3 separate regions of the Homo sapiens genome follow, and regions 2 and 3 are each linked to region 1. Evidence: fine-mapped expression QTL. A gene starts in region 1. Each other region holds a variant in brackets. All regions are shown on one strand. Distances are between the middles of the regions.

Region 1 (2,755 bases):
TCAGCTTGCCCAGCGGCACGTGGGCCTCAAGCCTGGTCCCCAGCGGCTGCGCCAGCCTAGCTGTGTTCACCTTGGGGCCGCGAGGGCCTCCCACCGGCTGGCAGCTGGTGGACACGCTGTCAAGATCGGGGGAAAAAAAGGAAGGAAGGAGGCTAGGGGGACACAGGGCTGGTGGCCTCCGCAGTCTTTGACCTGCGACGGGCGCGAGCGCACCTCCGCGCCTTTGCGCAGAGACCTTCCCCCAAGATTGGCTCACGACGCCTCCTACCCCGAAGTCAAGGGCTCCCTGTGGCAAATCCTCACACGCCCTCCTCCTCCCCGCCCATCCCCGGCGCCAGGACTGACGGGGAGAGGGCAAGGCCGGGCCAGAGGGGCTGTGGGCCTGGACTGCGGCTGTCGCCCGCGGCCCTGCTCTTTTGGGCAGCCAGACGTGGGGTCAGCGCCCAGTCGCAGCCTCCGGGGGTGAGTCCGCAGATCCCCGCACGTGACACAGGCCAGGCATGGGGACGGGGAGTTCCTCGTCGTCCGTTCCCACTCAGATGCTCCCTGAGGTTCCGGAACACCCCGCCCCCCATCCCAGGATCTGACCAACCCTCAAGCCACGGCCGGCCCCGGTTCCGCGAGACGGGGGACTCTGAGGATTGTCCTCCCTTCCGGGCTGGGACTCCCCCACAGCAGCCGACCGCCCCCAGTTCAGAGTGGCCCGGCCCGCAGCGCTCCCCGGGCACAGGTCCCAGGTGGACGGCTCCGCTCCCGCGCCCGGCTCCTCTGCCCGCCAAGCGCCCCGGGGATTCCCCGGCCTCCAAGCGGCCGCGGCCGGGTGGAGTCAGCCCCGAAGCCCGGGATCCCCCGAAGGGAGAAAACCCGCTCTGCTCCTCTGAAGCGGCGGGAGAAACCGGCCCCACCCAGGTCCGGGGGCCCGACGCCCTCGGCGGAGGCCGGCTCCAGGGGTCCGAGGTTCCCGAAGCTGGAGGCCGGCTCCGCCCCGGCGTCCCCCCGCCGCCACCTCCGCCCCCATCCCGCGGGCCGGCGGAGGGAGGGGCGGGGCCGCTTGCCGCCCGCGACTCGGGTTCGGCTTCTTTAGTGATTGCTTCTGCTTCTCCCGCGCCAGCTGTCCCCAGCTCTGGGGCAACGCTGCCAGGTGCCCAGTCCCCGCGCTCGAGAGAGCGCCTGCCTGGCTCTGAACTCTGGCCAGGAAGGGGCGCGAGGGGAAGGCCCCGGGGGAAGGCGTGTCCCCGCGCCCCGCCCCGCCCCGCCTCGGAAAGCCCCCGCGGTCCCGCCCACCCCAGGGGCTCGCTCAGCCTCCGGAGACTTTTTTCTTTGAGCGCAGCCGCCTGGTGCCGGTTTCCGCCGAGCTGGAGCGCGCGGGCCACGGCTTCTCTGGGGACGCAGAAGCGAGAAGCGGGGACCTCGGCGCGCGCCCCGCGTCCCGCTCTTCCTGCCCGCGCCCCGGCCCCCGGCCCGCGCCCCGGCCGCCGGCATGGTGCTGCTGGCCGGGACCGGGCCGGAGGGCGGCGGGGCGCGCTGCATGACCCCACCACCGCCGTCCCCACCCCGGGGCGCGCAGGTCGAGGAGGACCCCGCTGACTACGAAGAGTTTGAGGACTTCTCGAGTCTGCCAGACACCCGCAGCATCGCCTCGGACGACTCTTTCTACCCTTTCGAGGACGAGGAGGAGCACGGCGTCGAGAGCGCGGAGAGCGTCCCGGAGGGCGTCCCGGAAAGCGTCCCGGAGACGGCGACCCTCCTGCGCGCCGCCTGCGCCAACAACGTGGGGCTGCTGCGGACGCTGGTGCGGCGCGGGGTGAGCGTCGAGGAGGCGCAGGAGACTGACCGCAACGGCAGGGTAAGCGGGCGTCCCCGCAGGATTTGAGCCCCCTCACTGCCCCCACTCCCCTCCTCCCCACCACATCCCCGCGCCTCCCAGCTCCTGGCTCCGGACCGGTCCCTCGGTCACTCAGCCGCCGCCCAGAGCGCCTTTTCCCCGCTGTTTGGGAGCGCGGTGCCCTGGGTGGCTTCCCCGTCTCAGGCTGGGGGACGCGGTGCGGGGAGGGAGCAGTCGAGGTGTCAGCGCGGCAGAAACGCCAGTCCGGCGTCCTCACCGCATCCCCTTCTCGTTTACCGGTCCCCGTGGACCTCCTGACTGAATTCGCGCTGGCTGCCCGTGCTGCAATCCAGGATGGGCTTCTTGCGGCCCGGTCCCCTCCTGACTATTACCTTTCCCCAGGTCCCTGGCAGGGGACCATTCCTCCTCCCCTGCAGGAGACAGCCCCTCCTGCCCAGCGCCCCATTTGGCCCCTGGGCCCCTCGCGCCGCCCTTGTCCTAACACGCTGGGGCGCAGATCGGCTCCTCCAGCCGCAATGATTTGGAAGCAACAGTTTCTTCCCTCGCCGGGACAGCTTGGTCCCCTACCCCACCTCCGCTGAGCTTTGTGGCCCGCGCCGCGACCAGCCAACGTGATCTCTGACTGGTCTGTCCGCAGGTCACCTTCGCGAGCCAATGCCAGCCGGGGCTCCCCAGAGTCAGGGCATAGGGAGAGCCCCAGAGCCGCGGGCATCCACCCGGGTAGGGCAGGAGGCGTGGAGGCAGGCACAGGCTATCCTTTCGTTATGACCAGATTCAGAGAAAACGAGATGTTTAGAAAAGAAAAGAAAAGAAAGGAAAAGAAAAAAAGTTGGCTTAAGAAGACCTGAGAAGGACTGGCTGGTGGAACACCTTCCACCAAGCAAAGCACTTCAAGGGAAAACTGCAGAG
Region 2 (2,755 bases), 95 kb before region 1:
AGGAAAACACGTTCCCTATTCTGTTGATTTTGACTCTTCTTGTTACAAGGCTGAATCATCTATGTTCCCCTTCATAGCCTGCAGTTATTTCTTGTTAAAATAGCCATAGGTAGTTGGGCTTTCAGTCAGATTGTTGCTTGTCTTTAGGGGGTAACTCAAATGGTTTATTTAATAACTACAAACTTTATTGCAAATATCATTAACTGGTCAAGATGTTGAATAAAATAAACTGTTCAGGTGGCTGGTGTGTTTGAAGAAAGTAGCTCTGGGAGGAGAACAGCAGAAACTCCCTTGCTGCAATGAACATGGGAGGAGGTGCCTGAGGACCCTAACGGGATTGATAGGGGCTCCAGTACAATAATGGGAGATTTGCTATCACGTGGAGAGGAGGCCACATCTGGATTTAGCACCTCAAGAGTCAAAGACAATTTTTCCAATTGAAGTCACTTTAAAAATAAACTTTGGGCTGGGCGCAATGGCTCACGCCTCTAATCCCAGCACTTTGGGAGGCCAAGGTGGGTGGATTACGAGGTCAGGAGATCGAGACCATCCTGGCTAACACGGTGAAACCCCGTCTCTACTAAAAATACAAAAAATTAGCCGGGCGTGGTGGCAGGCGCCTGTAGTCCCAGCTACTTGGGAGGCTGAGGCAGGAGAATGGCGTGAACCTGGGAGGCGGAGCTTGCAATGAGCCGAGATCGTGCCACTGCACTCCAGCCTGGGCGACAGAGCAACTTTCTTTAAAAAAATAAAAATTAAATAAACTCTGAAGATGATGGAGCGTTTGCTGGCACTGTGGCTCATGCCTTAATCCTAGCACTTCTGGAGGCCAAGGTGGGAGGATTGTTTGAGCCCAGGAGTTTGAGACCAGCCCTAGCAATGGAGTGAGACCTTTTCTCTACAAAAAAATTAAAAAAAAAAAAAAAAATCAGCTGGAAGTGGTGGCATACGCCTGTGGTCCCAGCTACCTGGGAGGCCAAGGTGGGAGGATAGCTTGAGCCCAGGAAGTTGAGGCCACAGTGAGCTATGATTGCATCACTGCACTCCAGCCTGGGCGATAGAGTGAGATCCCGTCTCAAAAAAAGAAAAAAAAGTTCCTGGCATTCATACGGTGTGACTTTGAAAAACACCTGCTTTTCCTTAATTGCAGTGTGGGGAGGGGGGTGGTGGGAAGCAGAATTGAAAAAGCTACAAGATGCAGATGAGTGGACAGTGGTTTTATCTTATGACTTAAAGAATGCTCTGTCCCATTGAAATATGTGTCTTAAGTCTTTGTCCAGGCAGCAACGAGTGGCTTATTTGGTTTCAAGCTAACTTTATTTGTTGGCTTCTGTATTTTTCATCTCTAAAGAAAGTGGAGTATATTTCTTCTGTTGGTTTATGAGGTATAGGAAAAGAATGAAAGCAGGGATGACTCCAGAAATACGTGCTTACCCAGCATGGTGGAGTTCTGAGGTGGCTGGGCAGGGCCAATGATTTGCTTTTGAAATGATTGTGCTAAGA[G/A]TCACACATTGAATTTACGATTAGTTGTTATTTCTTGGCAATCACTAACATACTTGTGAATTCTCATTGTGTGAGAGAATCTAACTTACAAATCGTTTTCAAATGTAGTGAGATTTTTATGTATACTAAATTTAGCAATTAATGAGGAATGAACACAGAAATTAATCATTTATTGAGTCTGATTTTGCTATTTCCGTAATTTGCAGCCAATAATTTTTTTCAAGTCTTAAACATTCTCAGAGGTCGATGAAACCCTTGTCAGCCTGCGGCTTTGTGCCTTAGCATCTCAAGAATGAAATGTGTTCAGGTCCCCCGTCCTCCAAGGAAAATCCCAACTCTATTATGTTGCTTTGTACAATTTGTACAATTGTACAATCCCCTGGTTATTGAAGGGGATCCCCACCAGGACCCCATGAAGTGGACAGAAGTAGGATTAACCCCCTTTAGAGGGGACTGGCCTAGAACTAAGATGCCAGGGGCAGCCAGGTCCTCCTTCTGCCCAGGGTCCAGGCCCACCCACCTGGCCTCACACTCCTGTCCCTCTCAACTCTTCCATCCAACAGCATTCCCCGTATCTGTCCCATTTCCCCGTTCTGGCTTTTGGTAAGGCCAGAAGCCCCCACAGGTGAAAGAAACTGGATAGGTGGGGTTGGGTTGATGTCCACTGTTTCCTGGAACCTTCATGCTTTCCCCGAGGTTGGAGCAGGGATCCCACGCTTTCCTGTGCTGAGTTGGAGCCAGTTGGCCTGGGATATGGAATGGCTTTCTGGGCACATGTCCCACCTCAAACCCCAGTCCCATTCTTGAATCTCACGTAAAGTATTAGCAGGGCGTGATCAGGAGAGCCACACAGCATCCATGAAGTGCCCTGGCCGTGGGGCCTCGGGGCCGGAAGGACATTTGGGTTGGGATAATATTCGGGCTTAGGTGAAAATGCATTTACCCAGCACCTGCTAAGGGCTGGCCCCCCTGCCACGTACGGGTTTTGCAGCTAATTAAGTTCTCATCCCAGTGGCAGGGAAGGCTGCTGTCATTACCCCTGTGTTATGGAGGCACACTTCCTTGTCCAAAGTCCCCCGGGTGGAAAGGCAGGGACTGTTACTGGGTCCTGGCAGTCCGACTCCAGAGCCTTGGAGCCCAACTCCAAAGGAAAGGTGAAGAGTAAAGTGGCTCTTGGGGAGGGGACAGTGATGAGTGGGAGAATTTGTTCCTTGATTCTCTTTTCTTTTCTTTTTTCTTTTTTGAGATGAAG
Region 3 (2,755 bases), 43 kb after region 1:
GTGGAAACCACTCCCAGTGTTGGGAAAATTAGATGAGCCTCTGAGATAGGAATAGATTAGGTATATACATGAAGTTGGCAGAGGGAATACAGTTGAACAAAGTAGTGGTTTCATACATTACTAATCTAAAATCATAAATCCCAGCGAGAGGTTTGCAGTGATAATAAGATTTACGTTTTATGCAAAATTTAGTCTAAAGGGAAATTGTTTTGAATTACTGACAACCTTGAATTTATCAAATCCTGATTACAGGGCTACAAGGTGACCCCATGTTGGAAGGAATTATCTTGATGTATTTTACATATTTATTTATTTTATTAATAAAATGTCATTTCTTTATTTAAAACAGTTTATTAGGCATCTCTTTATTTGAAGCAGAAAAGCATAGATAAAAATACAAATATTGGCCTGGCACAGTAGCTCACGCCTGTAATCCCAGCACTTTGGGAGGCCAAGGTGGGCGGATCACAAGGTCAAGAGATCGAGACCATCCTGGCCAACATGGTGAAGCCCTGTCTCTACTAAAAATACAAAAATTAGCTGGGCGTGTTGGCGAGTGCCTGTAGTCCCAGCTACTCGGGAGGCTGAGGCAGGAGAATCACTTGAACCCACGAGGTGGAGGTTGCAGTGACCTGAGATCGTGCCACTGCACTCCAGCCTGGCGACAGAGCAAGACTCTGTCTTTTTTTTTTTTTTTTGAGGTGGAGTCTTGCTCTGTCGCCCAGGTTAGAGGGCAGTGGCGCAATCTCAGCTCGCTGCAAGCTCCGCCTCCCAGGTTCATGCCATTCTCCTGCCTCAGCCTCCTGAGTAGTTGCGATTACAGGTGTGCGTTACTACACCTGGCTCATTTTTTTGTATTTTTAATAGAGACAGGATTTCACCATGTTGGCCAGGCTGGTCTTGAACTCCTGACCTCAAGTGATCCACCCACCTCAGCCTCCCAAAGTGTTGGGGTTACAGGCATGAGCCACCACGCCCAGCCCATTTTATAAGTACATTTTGTGCCCAATCAAGTATCAAAGACATAATCTTAAAATAAAGGACAGTTCTTCCCAAGGGAAAAAGAAAGTAGGCAACCTGACACATGAATAGATGATGTATGCTACTGTTACACGCACACACACACACTCAGAATAGACTGTGATGCTGTGATAACAAACCACTTCAAGTCCCAGTGGCTTAAAATAACAAAGGTTTGCCTCTCGCTCATTCATGCTGTTGTGCGCCGGCTAGAGGGGGCAGGGCTCTGCTCTCTCTGCCCTCACTCCGGAGGCCCAGTCTGGGAGCAGTTGCATCTCTGAGCTTCAAGGGCAGTCAAGTCAAGAAAAGGGAAGGTGGCACATCGTCCACCGTCTCTC[G/A]AAACTTCCTCCTGGAAGTGACACCTGCTATTTCACTTACGTTTAATTACCCAAAGCAAACCAGATGGTCAAGTCAGAACTCAGAAAGGGTGGGGAAATGCAATTTTACCAAGAGGCAGGAAGAAATAGATAACGGAATAACGCCAGTGAGTACTGCAGCTGAATCCAGTGCAACTGAATTGTCCTGGTTCAAACAATTAAAAAAGACTTTGTGTGTGTACTTTCACCAGCTTCTTCACAGACCGTCGCCCATACTTGAGTGAATCTTCCTCCTGTGCATGCTACTGTATATGATAAGTGGAAGAGAATAGAGAGTGTTGTCAGGGACATTTTTGAGGAATACTGAAGTCTACTTGGGACAGTGAAACACACTGGACGATGAGCTTCCAGCTGCTTGTTTTCCTGCTGGACTGTCTGTGAGTTCATCTTCTTATTTAAAGCTCCTTGTTACTGAGTGCCTCCTAGCAGCAGTTTCCTTTAGCCCTCTCTAGGAGGAGCACAAATGCCTATTCCTGGCAGCCTGAGCATGTCGTCTTAGGCGTCCTCTCGTGACCTGTGGTCTGGTGTTTTGCACAATCTTCATCACCACTCCTTCTAGAAGGACTGAGAACTGAATTTGACTTTTAAAACGAAGCTTGGTAATCAAGAATAGCAACAGCAGGCTGAGTACGGGGGCTCACGCCTATATTCCTAGGACTTTGGGAGGCTGAGGCGGGTGGATCACTTGAGGTCAGGAGCTCGAGACCAGCCTGATCAACATGGTGAAACCCTGTCTCCACTAAAAAAATACAAAAAAAAAAAAAAAAATGGGCGTGGTGGTGCATGACTGTAGTCTCAGCTACTCAGGAGGCTGGGGCAGGAGAATCGCCTGAACCCATGAGGCGGACATTGCAGTGAGCCAAGATTGTGCCACTGCACTCCAGCCTAGGCAACAGAGCGAGACTCCATCTAAAAAAAAAAAAAAAAAAGAGCCGTGGTAGTTCTGAAGGGGAAGAGCAAGGAAGGTTTCTTCCCTGCAAAACACAAGGCTGCAGTAGCGAATCAGGATTGCCTTGGGGCTGAGGTAGATTGTTAGACCAATGGGAGCAACTCTCAGGTTCATTCCTGTGTTTATGGGGAGGTGGGATGAGCTTGAGCATGCTGTTACTACCAATGGGAAAAGAATGGATGTGTTCATATATTGTGCTAGGAAAACAGAAAAAGGTAAAATTAAACTTCTATAATAAAAACCATGGTGGATTCAAGACCTCACTATGAAAAAAAAAAAAACTTGAAACTGTTGAAATTAAATACAGAGGAATATCTTTAGGGTTTTTGAATGGGAGGCATTGCTTAAACGCATGACAAAAAGCATTCCTATAAAGGAAAAGATTAATAATATGACTGCATCGAAACGT

Alleles and levels. Positions count from the first base shown, and alleles are read on the strand shown. Sizes are in standard deviations (SD) of each study's normalised expression.
In carriers of allele G in region 2, the expression in fibroblasts of the gene that starts at base 1,083 in region 1 tends to be higher than with A alone (small effect, 0.12 SD a copy in GTEx).
In carriers of allele G in region 3, the expression in whole blood of the gene that starts at base 1,083 in region 1 tends to be higher than with A alone (moderate effect, 0.51 SD a copy in GTEx).

Evidence for each region. PIP is the estimated chance that this variant, and not a neighbour inherited with it, causes the effect.
Region 2: its variant is fine-mapped to the expression of ANKRD33B in fibroblasts (GTEx, PIP 0.96).
Region 3: its variant is fine-mapped to the expression of ANKRD33B in whole blood (TOPMed, PIP above 0.99).

The regions. Positions count from the first base shown.
Region 1 is chr5:10,562,988-10,565,742 of GRCh38, forward strand. ANKRD33B (ankyrin repeat domain 33B) reads left to right here and starts at 1,083. Exons shown (of 4, transcript NM_001164440.2): 1 at 1,083-1,846. The coding sequence starts at 1,481. RefSeq lists silencers at 667-1,526, 1,867-1,916 and enhancers at 1,146-2,040, 2,041-2,755, 2,057-2,266, 2,587-2,636, 2,657-2,746.
Region 2 is chr5:10,468,410-10,471,164 of GRCh38, forward strand. It overlaps a transcript of ROPN1L not described here. Among named protein-coding and RNA genes, the nearest start is that of MIR6131, 8.2 kb to the right of the region's middle. The variant G/A (reference allele first, on the strand shown) is at 1,504.
Region 3 is chr5:10,606,049-10,608,803 of GRCh38, forward strand. All of the region lies in intron 1 of ANKRD33B (ankyrin repeat domain 33B), which reads left to right. Among named protein-coding and RNA genes, the nearest start is that of ANKRD33B, 43 kb to the left of the region's middle. RefSeq lists a silencer at 1,198-1,247 and an enhancer at 1,918-2,167. The variant G/A (reference allele first, on the strand shown) is at 1,359.